Linked DNA regions of Homo sapiens: region 1 is linked to region 2. The links come from fine-mapping of genetic effects on gene expression. A gene starts in region 2. The other region holds a variant in brackets. All regions are shown on one strand. Distances are between the middles of the regions. Region 1 overlaps UBE2D1 (ubiquitin conjugating enzyme E2 D1). Region 2 holds the start of IPMK (inositol polyphosphate multikinase).

Region 1 (4,392 bases), 77 kb before region 2:
GGGCAAAAAAAAAAAAAAAAAAAAGAGTGTAATTTAGAATAAAAGCTTGAGGTCAGAATTACAGACATTATTTACTCAGTGCCTCACATCTCAACCACTTTCCCCCAGTTTTCTCTGCACCAGGCATAATGATTCAATTTCCCAAAATGCTATCTTGCCTCTACTTTCAAACATGGCTTCCTGTTTAGATGGCGGACTCTTGATCACACTCTCTACATATAATATTTCCATCAGAGGAATTACATAAATAAAAATCGATTTTAGACAAATCCAAAGTAGCCAAGTAAAAGCTGTATTTGAATCTGTTTTATGAAGGCTTACAGTAAAAATGCATTTATTCGTTCTAGTAATTCAAACTCTAAACCTTGGAGTTACCATCTAATTCTTCTCTTCACATCCCACTCCTTCACAATTTGAAAAGTACCAAATTGTTCAGATTCTCCTTCTGTCTAGATCCCTCCCTCTGAAAGGGTCCCAGAAGGCCCATCAAATAGGACAGCTGAGGTCCAACGTGTAGAAGAGTCTGATATAAGCCAGAGGAGAGGTAGTTTAGGATAAGAACCCAAAGGTTCCAGCCAGGCAGACAATCTTAATATCTGGGACCAGACTGGATAACAGAAGGAGGAATCTGAAGAGATTGCCTAGACCAGGGAGCCTGTGATACTTGACTTGAAAGGCCAAGAAGGTGTAGGCATAGATGGATCACACCAACTCAAAAGGGCCAGGTGGTACAAACACCCTGTAATTTTTGTCATATATCCCTCTTTTCAATGTCCTCTGCTAACACTGTAGCTTAGACCCTCTTTGGATCTCACTTAAGTGCAATATCTTAACTTACCTACTGTCCTCCTATTTTTCTACCTATACACTGCTGCCAAAATCATCTTCTTGAAGAGCCATGTCAAACCTCTTCGATGTTTTCCATTCACCTTCATGTAAGACTTATAAGTCCTTAAAATGACTTGCCAGACCTTCCAAGACGTGACTTCTTTCTAGCGTCATATCTGCAACACTTTTCCCCAGTGCTCTCTGCACCAGCCATGACTTTTAATCTTGCCTTTAGTTGCAAACATGGCTTCCTTTTCGGCAGAAGATACTTAATCACCTCCCCTCCCCAAAACACACTTTCTCCCTCATTCTTTCATTTTATCTACTTTACTTTTACTTTCTTGTCTCATCTTAAACATCATTGCCTTCAGGTTTTCCCTGAAACCTTCAATGGGTCCCTGCTATATTCCTAGAATACTCCATGCATCCCTTTTCATGACATTAATCAAAATTATAATGACAAACAGTAAACAATCTTGAGTTTGATGAGGGCAAGGATGCCTATGATTAAGAGTGTTCATTCCGGCCGGGTATGGTGGCTCACGCCTGTAATCCCAGCACTTCGGGAGTCTGAGGCGGGCAGATCATTTGAGGTCAGGGGTTCGAGACCAGCCTGACCAACATGGTGAAACCCAGTCTCTACTAAAAAATACAAAAATTAGCCGGGCATGGTGGTGCACGCCTGTAGTCCCAGCTACTTGGGAGGCTGAGGCAGGAAAATTGCTTGAACCTGGGAGGCAGAGGTTGCAGTGAGCAAAGATTGTACCACTGCACTCCAGCCTGGGTGACAGAGTGAGACTCCGTCTAAAAAAAAAAAAAAAAAAAGTATTAGCTCCTATTACTCAAAAACCTTCAATGGCTTCCCCAATCTTCTGCATTAAGTACATATTTCTCAGCACAGGCCTTCAAGGTTGTCTACAATATGAAGCTTTATGGTCTACTGTTTCTGAACGATTCCCAAAAGCAGGATTATCTGCTCCTTCCCAAATAAGCCAAGCATATTCTAGTGTCTTCATTTCCGTAGCTTCCTCTACAAGCCTGGCTCCCCTAAGTCTTTCAAAATGCTATCCAGTCTTCCCAACCTATATCAAATTCCATCTTCTCCACAGTTTTTCCTGATTTTCCCAAATAAATTTGGCCTCTCCCATCTTTGACTCCCTTCCTGTTTAAATATATTGTATTTTCTGTTTGGTACTTTCCTAAATCCATCTAGTTGTTACAGGACTTTTCTTACACTTATTAATTTTAAATTTCTTAGATAATGGTGATACCTGTTTTTCTACATAACTAGCATCTCCTTACTGCATTTAATATATGCCTTGTATCAGAAGGTGTTTGATAAATGCATTAACTTGAATCTTTTGAGACAGGGTCTTGCTGTCATACAAGCTGAAGTGCAGTGGCACAATCACAGCTCACTGTAATCTTGAATTCCTGGGCTCAAGTGATCCTCCCACCTCAGCCTCCCAAGTAGCTGAGACTACAGGCACGTGCCACGATGCTGAGCTATTTTTTAATTTTTTTTTT[A/T]AAATAAATGGGATCTCACTATGTTGCCCAGGATGGTCTCAAACTCCTGGGCTCAAGTGTTTCTTCTGCCTCGGTCTCCCAAAGTTCTGGGATTACAGGCATGAGCCACGTGCCCAGCACTGAATCTTAAAAATCTATTACATAGGCTGGGCACCATGGCTCTCACCTGTAATCCCAGCACTTTGGGAGGCCAAGGCGGGTGGATCACTTGAAGTCAGGAGTTCGAGACCAGCCTGGACAACATGGCAAAACCCTGTCTCTATTAAAAATACAAAAATTAGCCAGGCATGGTAGTGCACACCTGTAGACCCAGCTACTCAGGGGGCTGAGACATGAGAATCCCCTAAACGCAGGAGGTGGAGGTTGCAGTGAGCTGAGATCATGCCACTGCAGTCCAGCCTGGGTGACAGAGCCAGACTTTGTCATTAAAAAAAAAAAAAACAAAAAAACTATTACCTATAAGGCAGCTGTGCAGCTGTGTATGGCAGTTGTCTAAATATGTGGATAAAACAATCTTAAGTACAAAAGCTAACAAATAGAGAAAAGCTAAATGGAATTAGAGAACCACGTTATGTTACCAGTGCAATAATAGAAATACATTTTATTTGCATCATAAATAATTGCTCTTTAGTTAGAGAATAAGATTTATTGACCTTATACATTAAGAGATGTCAACATTTATTTCAAATCTGATATTTCAAAGTAAATGGAATTTTAAGTCAAGTCTAATATAGCTCCATAGCACAGTGCCAAAGCTCAGTGTTTGTTTTTGTGATCACTGTTGTTTGCTGCAAAAAAAAAAACAGCAAATACATTATTTAGGTTTGCCTAAAATTATGATTCAGAAGAGATGACAGAAAGTATCAAGTTCAATCCATTAAGTTTCCAAGTGAGGAGTATAAAGACTGAGTCTCCTGGCCAAGGTCACAAAGCCAAACTAGGACAAAGGGACAGACCATCTGACTTCTACTCCAGCACTCTTCCCACCCCAATTCAATACTCACCTCAACACTGTAACAGCTAGAGCACATTATTTTCAACCAACACTGAAGCAAACAATGCTCCAGTACTGTATTAAGGCCATTTGCACATTTTTAGCTATGCTCCAGAGAAACAAAAGTGTGATAAGTGAAGGAATGAGAAGGAATTCTTATCTTTTCTCAGGAGCTTATATCATATAAAAGGTTAGAAACGAATACTATTTCATAAGCTTTCAGGAGCGTTGTGTTTAAAGACACTCTGAGAGTCAAGAAAAACTTTACAGGAAATTATACACAACTTAAATAAATAGAATTTTCACATAAAATATGCAAATGGAGCATTTTGAGTGCTCCATTATCAAAACTTACTATTTACTTTACAGTAACCAAAAAAAGATGGAAGAAAAAAGAGAGAAAACCTAGCTGCCTATTTATTAAAACGTGTGTAAAACATGAACATGCCTACCAATACCTACCAAATATTTGTTATTAAATATTGCTTCTTACAGCTCTATACCTAATAACTGGCATATAGTGGGCACTTGAGTGTTTCATAATAAATTCTCTACTCTCTGTTAGTATCATCCAGTATTATTCTTGAATATTATGGTTGTACATCAGTCACTAAAATGCTGCTACTTGTAGAAGAAAACAATGCATACGGTCTGTATCAAATGCAAACGTTTCCAAGGCTAGAACAGTTTACATTATGTGTATATGTGTATCAATATATTTGTGTGTCTCTGTGTATGTGTATATGTATTCATTTGCTCTCCCTATATATGTATACATGTATATGTATGGTTGTATGGCATGTATTTTTAACATTAATTTTACCTAAGGATCTTATGTTATGGAACAGTGATTTTCCAGCTTTCCTTACAGCAATTTATAATATGAAAAAGATTTTACATTACAACCTAGTACACACACACACACTAAAACAAATTTCATGAAACAACACCCTTACTATATGCAAAGCACTAATATTTTCTATTCCATTTTAAAAAGTGGATGTTTATTATTCACTAAACTGTTTGGAAACTCATAAAAGAGA
Region 2 (4,364 bases):
ATAGTTTTTTAAAAAACAAAAACAAAAATCACACCCTATTTTAAATGCACCAAGCTGCCTCTATTAAAAAAAGTCTCAAGATGAGTATCCTTTAATATAATTTTTGCAAATAATAATCTCTATATCATTAGTAACTTCGAAATGTCATGGAATATCACCCTTAGCCAGGTAAATTTTGTCAACAGAAGTGGAACTCTCCAATTTTTGGAAACTACCTATTAAAAAATTAGGGCTCAAGTTAGTAGGGACTTTTTATTACCTGGCACTACAGATGTTCAATATTTACTGAACGTATTTTTAATTAACCTCTAGACAGTCTCTTTGCCTTTACTCAAAACCTTGCGAAGTGGCGTTTTATAGAGGGGCAAAGATCACATATATTGTGTGTCTGGTACACAGTATTATATTAACAATTATAACATCACCAAGAATGGTTATAAAGTGAAACTCCACATTAAATGACTGCTTATAAAGTCTCTTAATTTTATTATAACGGGACTTTCTGCGAAATACTGTTTCCAAACGCTAGGTACTAGCACAGGGGAAAGAAGACTCAGAAAGCTGAAGGTTCAACGAACGCAGTTTTCAATCCTTTATCCTGGACTACTGCCACCGAGTGTCAGATGCCAGAGGAATAATAAAAAACCGGGAAAACTGAAAACCTCGGATTGCGTTTCATCCCTTAAAAAAAAATCTGCAAAACTAAGATGTGATTAGTCACGCAATGCTTCAGGATTGCAGGAAATCGACGTTGTGGCCCGACGCTGACTGAAACATGAGAAGGGCAAACAGGTTTGCTGTTGTTTTCTCCCACCTTTCCTTCTTTTCCAGGCTATGTGACTTAAGGACATGAAAGCGTCTTAGGGGTGAACAAGAAAAGCTAGCGGCGCGGTCATTAGGTGTTAGGGTTTGGCTAGCTGGGGTAAACGTGGACTCTGGTCCGGCATGGCCCCAAACCATCAATCCATCCCTGACCTCGCCCCCTTTCGCTGTCCGGCCCGGAGCCCGCAGCCGGGCCGAGCGCTTGCCCTTCTGCATCTCAAGGTTATAGGACCGGCGGGCGCGTAGGGCAGTGGTAAAACAACCCAGTCGAACTGCGGGCGCGGCAACCGCTGAGCCTCACCAGCCTCACCCGCTCCCAGGCCCCACTTCACCTCGTACGCTGGAACTGGAAGTCAGACTCATGGCGCCGTCGCTTGCAAGGCGTGTGCACTAGGATACCGAGCTCAAACGGGTTCGCGCGGCCGGCGAGAGTAAAGGTGCCAGCGGCGTACTAAAGCACCGACTCCGCGATGCTACCGCGCAGGCGCCGCGGCGGGTCGTAGGCACGTGTGTGAGCTCGACCCTGGTAGGTGCTGAGCATGCGTGGAGCTGTCCTGGCCATAAGGAAGTCTGGACTCCGGATTTTGACAGCTACGGGAGGTGGGAGGAGGAAAAGACTTAGGTAGCAACAGAGTTTGCGCAACGCCGAGGGGCGGGGCCCTGAAGCCGAGGGGCGGGGCCCTGAAGCCGAGGGGCAGGGCCCTGGGATTAGGGAATCCAGGCCAGATTTTACGTCTCTTCCAGGTGTGTGGGCTTCTGGGGGCAGAAACAGGTGTTAATAGGACACTTACTTTAATCAGATACCTAAGATTTGACCCCAGTTTTTCTTGCTCGGGGCTTGTGACGATTTACCTTCAAGGCCAGGTCCAGCTTTTATATAACATGCCAGCGGCGGACATACAGGAATCAATGACTGAGTCCCATTCCAGAACCTCGCGTAGCTACCGGTGTCCATCCCTTTCTGCTTTTGATATAATTATCTACTCAGGACCTTGGAACCTGCACTATCTTAAAGGTCGAGTGGGAGAGAAAAAACTTGCTCCTTTCTTTAAAAAACATGTTCACTTAAAAAAATTAGAAGTTTTCTCTGTCTTCTACAGTCTGAAATTCGTGTCGGTTCCAATTTTATTTTATTTTTATGTGTTTTACTTTTTGGTAAGAGCGGTTTAGAGACAGCAATCCGGGGAGGGGGGCTGAGATTAACTCGAAGGGTATTTTGAAGGCGCATCTCTAATAAGCTGCCTGCTTTTACTTCTGTTGTTTTCGTGCGGGGTGGGAGTTGGAGGGAGTTGAGTGCAGTTAGGGGTGGCCTTTAGAGCCACCCTTGGCAATGCTAGTGCCTTCCAATTCTTGCCGGACTGCTCCGCACACTTAGAAGTCCCTGGCTTCTCTGAGCTGACGCGCTGAGAAGCGTGTTGAATGAATGAGGCCACAGCAGCACGCGTGACTTCGAAATGCCCGCGGGGTGGGGGTGAGAAGAAACAGGGGTGCGCTCGCCCTATCCCTGTCGCCGTCGCCAGGTCCTGGCAGCACGGCGCGCCCGCCCCGCTGACTTGGGGGGCCGGAATCCCGTTGGACGGCCTCTGGGCATGCTCAGTAGCGGCGGCAGCGGCGGTGCGGGCGGCGGTGACGCGCGCGCGGCAGCTGAGGGGACTGGAGGACGGCGGGAGGGGGCGGGGGCGCAGGAGGTGGGNCCGCCGTCGCCGTCAGGGCCCCAGGGAGCGCGGGGCGCCGCTGCTGCTGTTCTTCGGCTCGGTTCTGTCTACCGGGCAGCGCCGGGGCCGGCGGCTGCGGCGGCAGAGGAACAGGAGCCGGGAGCCGCGTTCCGCCGAGAGTTGGGCAGAGGAGCGCCCGCGCCCCGGCGGCGTCATGGGCCCCCTCCCCGCGCTTCAGAGGGCACCAGCCGCGGGAACCCCCGGGCCTCCTCGCGCCCGAGCCTGAGCGACCCTCGGGTTCTCCGGCGCCCCCTCCCTCGCCCTATTTTTTTTCCTACTCTCGCTGCCGTTACCGCTTCTGCTCTCCGTTATGGCAACAGAGCCACCATCCCCCCTCCGGGTCGAGGCGCCGGGCCCCCCAGAAATGCGGACCTCACCGGCGATCGAGTCCACCCCTGAGGGCACCCCGCAGCCGGCGGGCGGCAGACTCCGCTTCCTCAACGGCTGCGTGCCCCTCTCGCATCAGGTGGCCGGGCACATGTACGGGAAGGACAAAGTGGGTAAGTGGGGGTGGCATAGGTCTCGCCGCTCCCCTTCCGCCTGTGCGAGCCCCCTGTCAGCGGAGGCAGCCTAGCGCTCTCGGGCCTGCCTGGACGCCCCCCTGGTGTGCACGCCAAATCCCTGGCCTCTTCCGCTGTCCCCCGAAGCCTCGCCACTCGAGCAGAAGGGGCTCGGAAAGTGGGACAATTCCTAGGGTGTGGGTCGTCAGGCTTGCAGCACGGGTGGCAGGGAGAGGCGTGTCTGGTCTCACCCACCCCCCAGGGAGGTTGGGTGTTGATTGGAGACGGCGTTGTTAGTGAAAATAAGGAACTTCATTTTTACTGGACGGGGAAGTAAATTCTCCCTTGAGCACAAGGTCTGTTTATTATAGGCGAGTAGCTATTGCAAAAGAAAAGGAATGAAATGCAGATGATGCTAATCTAGTACTTCTCTGCTGGGTGCAGCTGCATAGCTGGAGGGGAAGAAAAACACTGGGCTTTTTTAGGGGGAGGTGAGAAGGGAAGAAAGCTTGTCCGTGATTTTTCCCTGTCCCTTGAGGAGGTTTTTCTGGTGTCTCCTTGATTTCTCTGGGAGGCGTGGTTCCAGTAGTGCAGAAACTCGGATTCCTGGTGGGAAATTCACACGCATATTGTACCAGAATGATACACAAAATGTTCAGCTATTCTTGTTCATTTTATAAGGCTGTATCATGGCCACTGTAATACATTTTCTGAGTTCACAAGTTTAAAGCCTATCTCAGTTTAGGAACTCTAATTCATCTAGTTTACCCGTAGTGGTTCCCTGGGCCATGATTACTGGGGTAATCTGATGGATGAGTATGTGAGTATTGTGGATCTTTGACCCGGAAGAGCCACTAGAGACAATTTAGTTTATGCCGGTAAAACGATTCGGGTTTAGGTTGCTAATACTGACATTTTTAGACGAGGTGACTAAGGCCAACCCTGGTTAAGAATGACGTGCCTGAAGTCACGTTACAATATGTTAAGAATTGTGAAACCAAGAGTTCTTCCTTTGAGTACTGTATTTTTTCACCATGTATTGTGTTTGCTGAAACAACTCAAGGCTTTTAGAAAATGGATAAGTATTAATTTGAGTATATGCTATTTCTCAAAGCGACATTTTCCACTACTTTTATTTTTACCTACTTTGTTTGTGTGCCTTTCTCCCCACTGAATTGTGAATTCCTAGATGTTAGAGAGAGAATCTGTATTCTCTCATAGCCTTGTGCACGGACTGGGAATCAGTAACACTCAGGAAATATTGAATAGTGAAAATTGACAGTTGTTTTAGTATACCGAGGTAAAGAAACAACGTCCTCAAGTTGCT

Evidence for each region. PIP is the estimated chance that this variant, and not a neighbour inherited with it, causes the effect. A credible set is the group of variants that fine-mapping cannot tell apart.
Region 1: its variant is the best candidate, but not a certain one, in a credible set for the expression of IPMK in whole blood (INTERVAL, PIP 0.75).

Annotation. Positions count from the first base shown.
Region 1 is chr10:58,343,272-58,347,663 of GRCh38, reverse strand. The region is part of intron 1 of UBE2D1 (ubiquitin conjugating enzyme E2 D1); the gene reads right to left. Among named protein-coding and RNA genes, the nearest start is that of UBE2D1, 10 kb to the right of the region's middle. The variant A/T (reference allele first, on the strand shown) is at 2,356.
Region 2 is chr10:58,266,095-58,270,458 of GRCh38, reverse strand. It overlaps IPMK (inositol polyphosphate multikinase), which reads left to right and starts at 2,565. Exons shown (of 6, transcript NM_152230.5): 1 at 2,565-3,037. The coding sequence starts at 2,848. CISD1 (CDGSH iron sulfur domain 1) reads right to left here and starts at 1,297. Exons shown (of 3, transcript NM_018464.5): 1 at 1,155-1,297. The coding sequence starts at 1,185. RefSeq lists silencers at 870-919, 1,510-1,569, 2,275-2,784 and enhancers at 1,140-1,189, 1,035-1,591, 3,036-3,330, 3,285-3,394.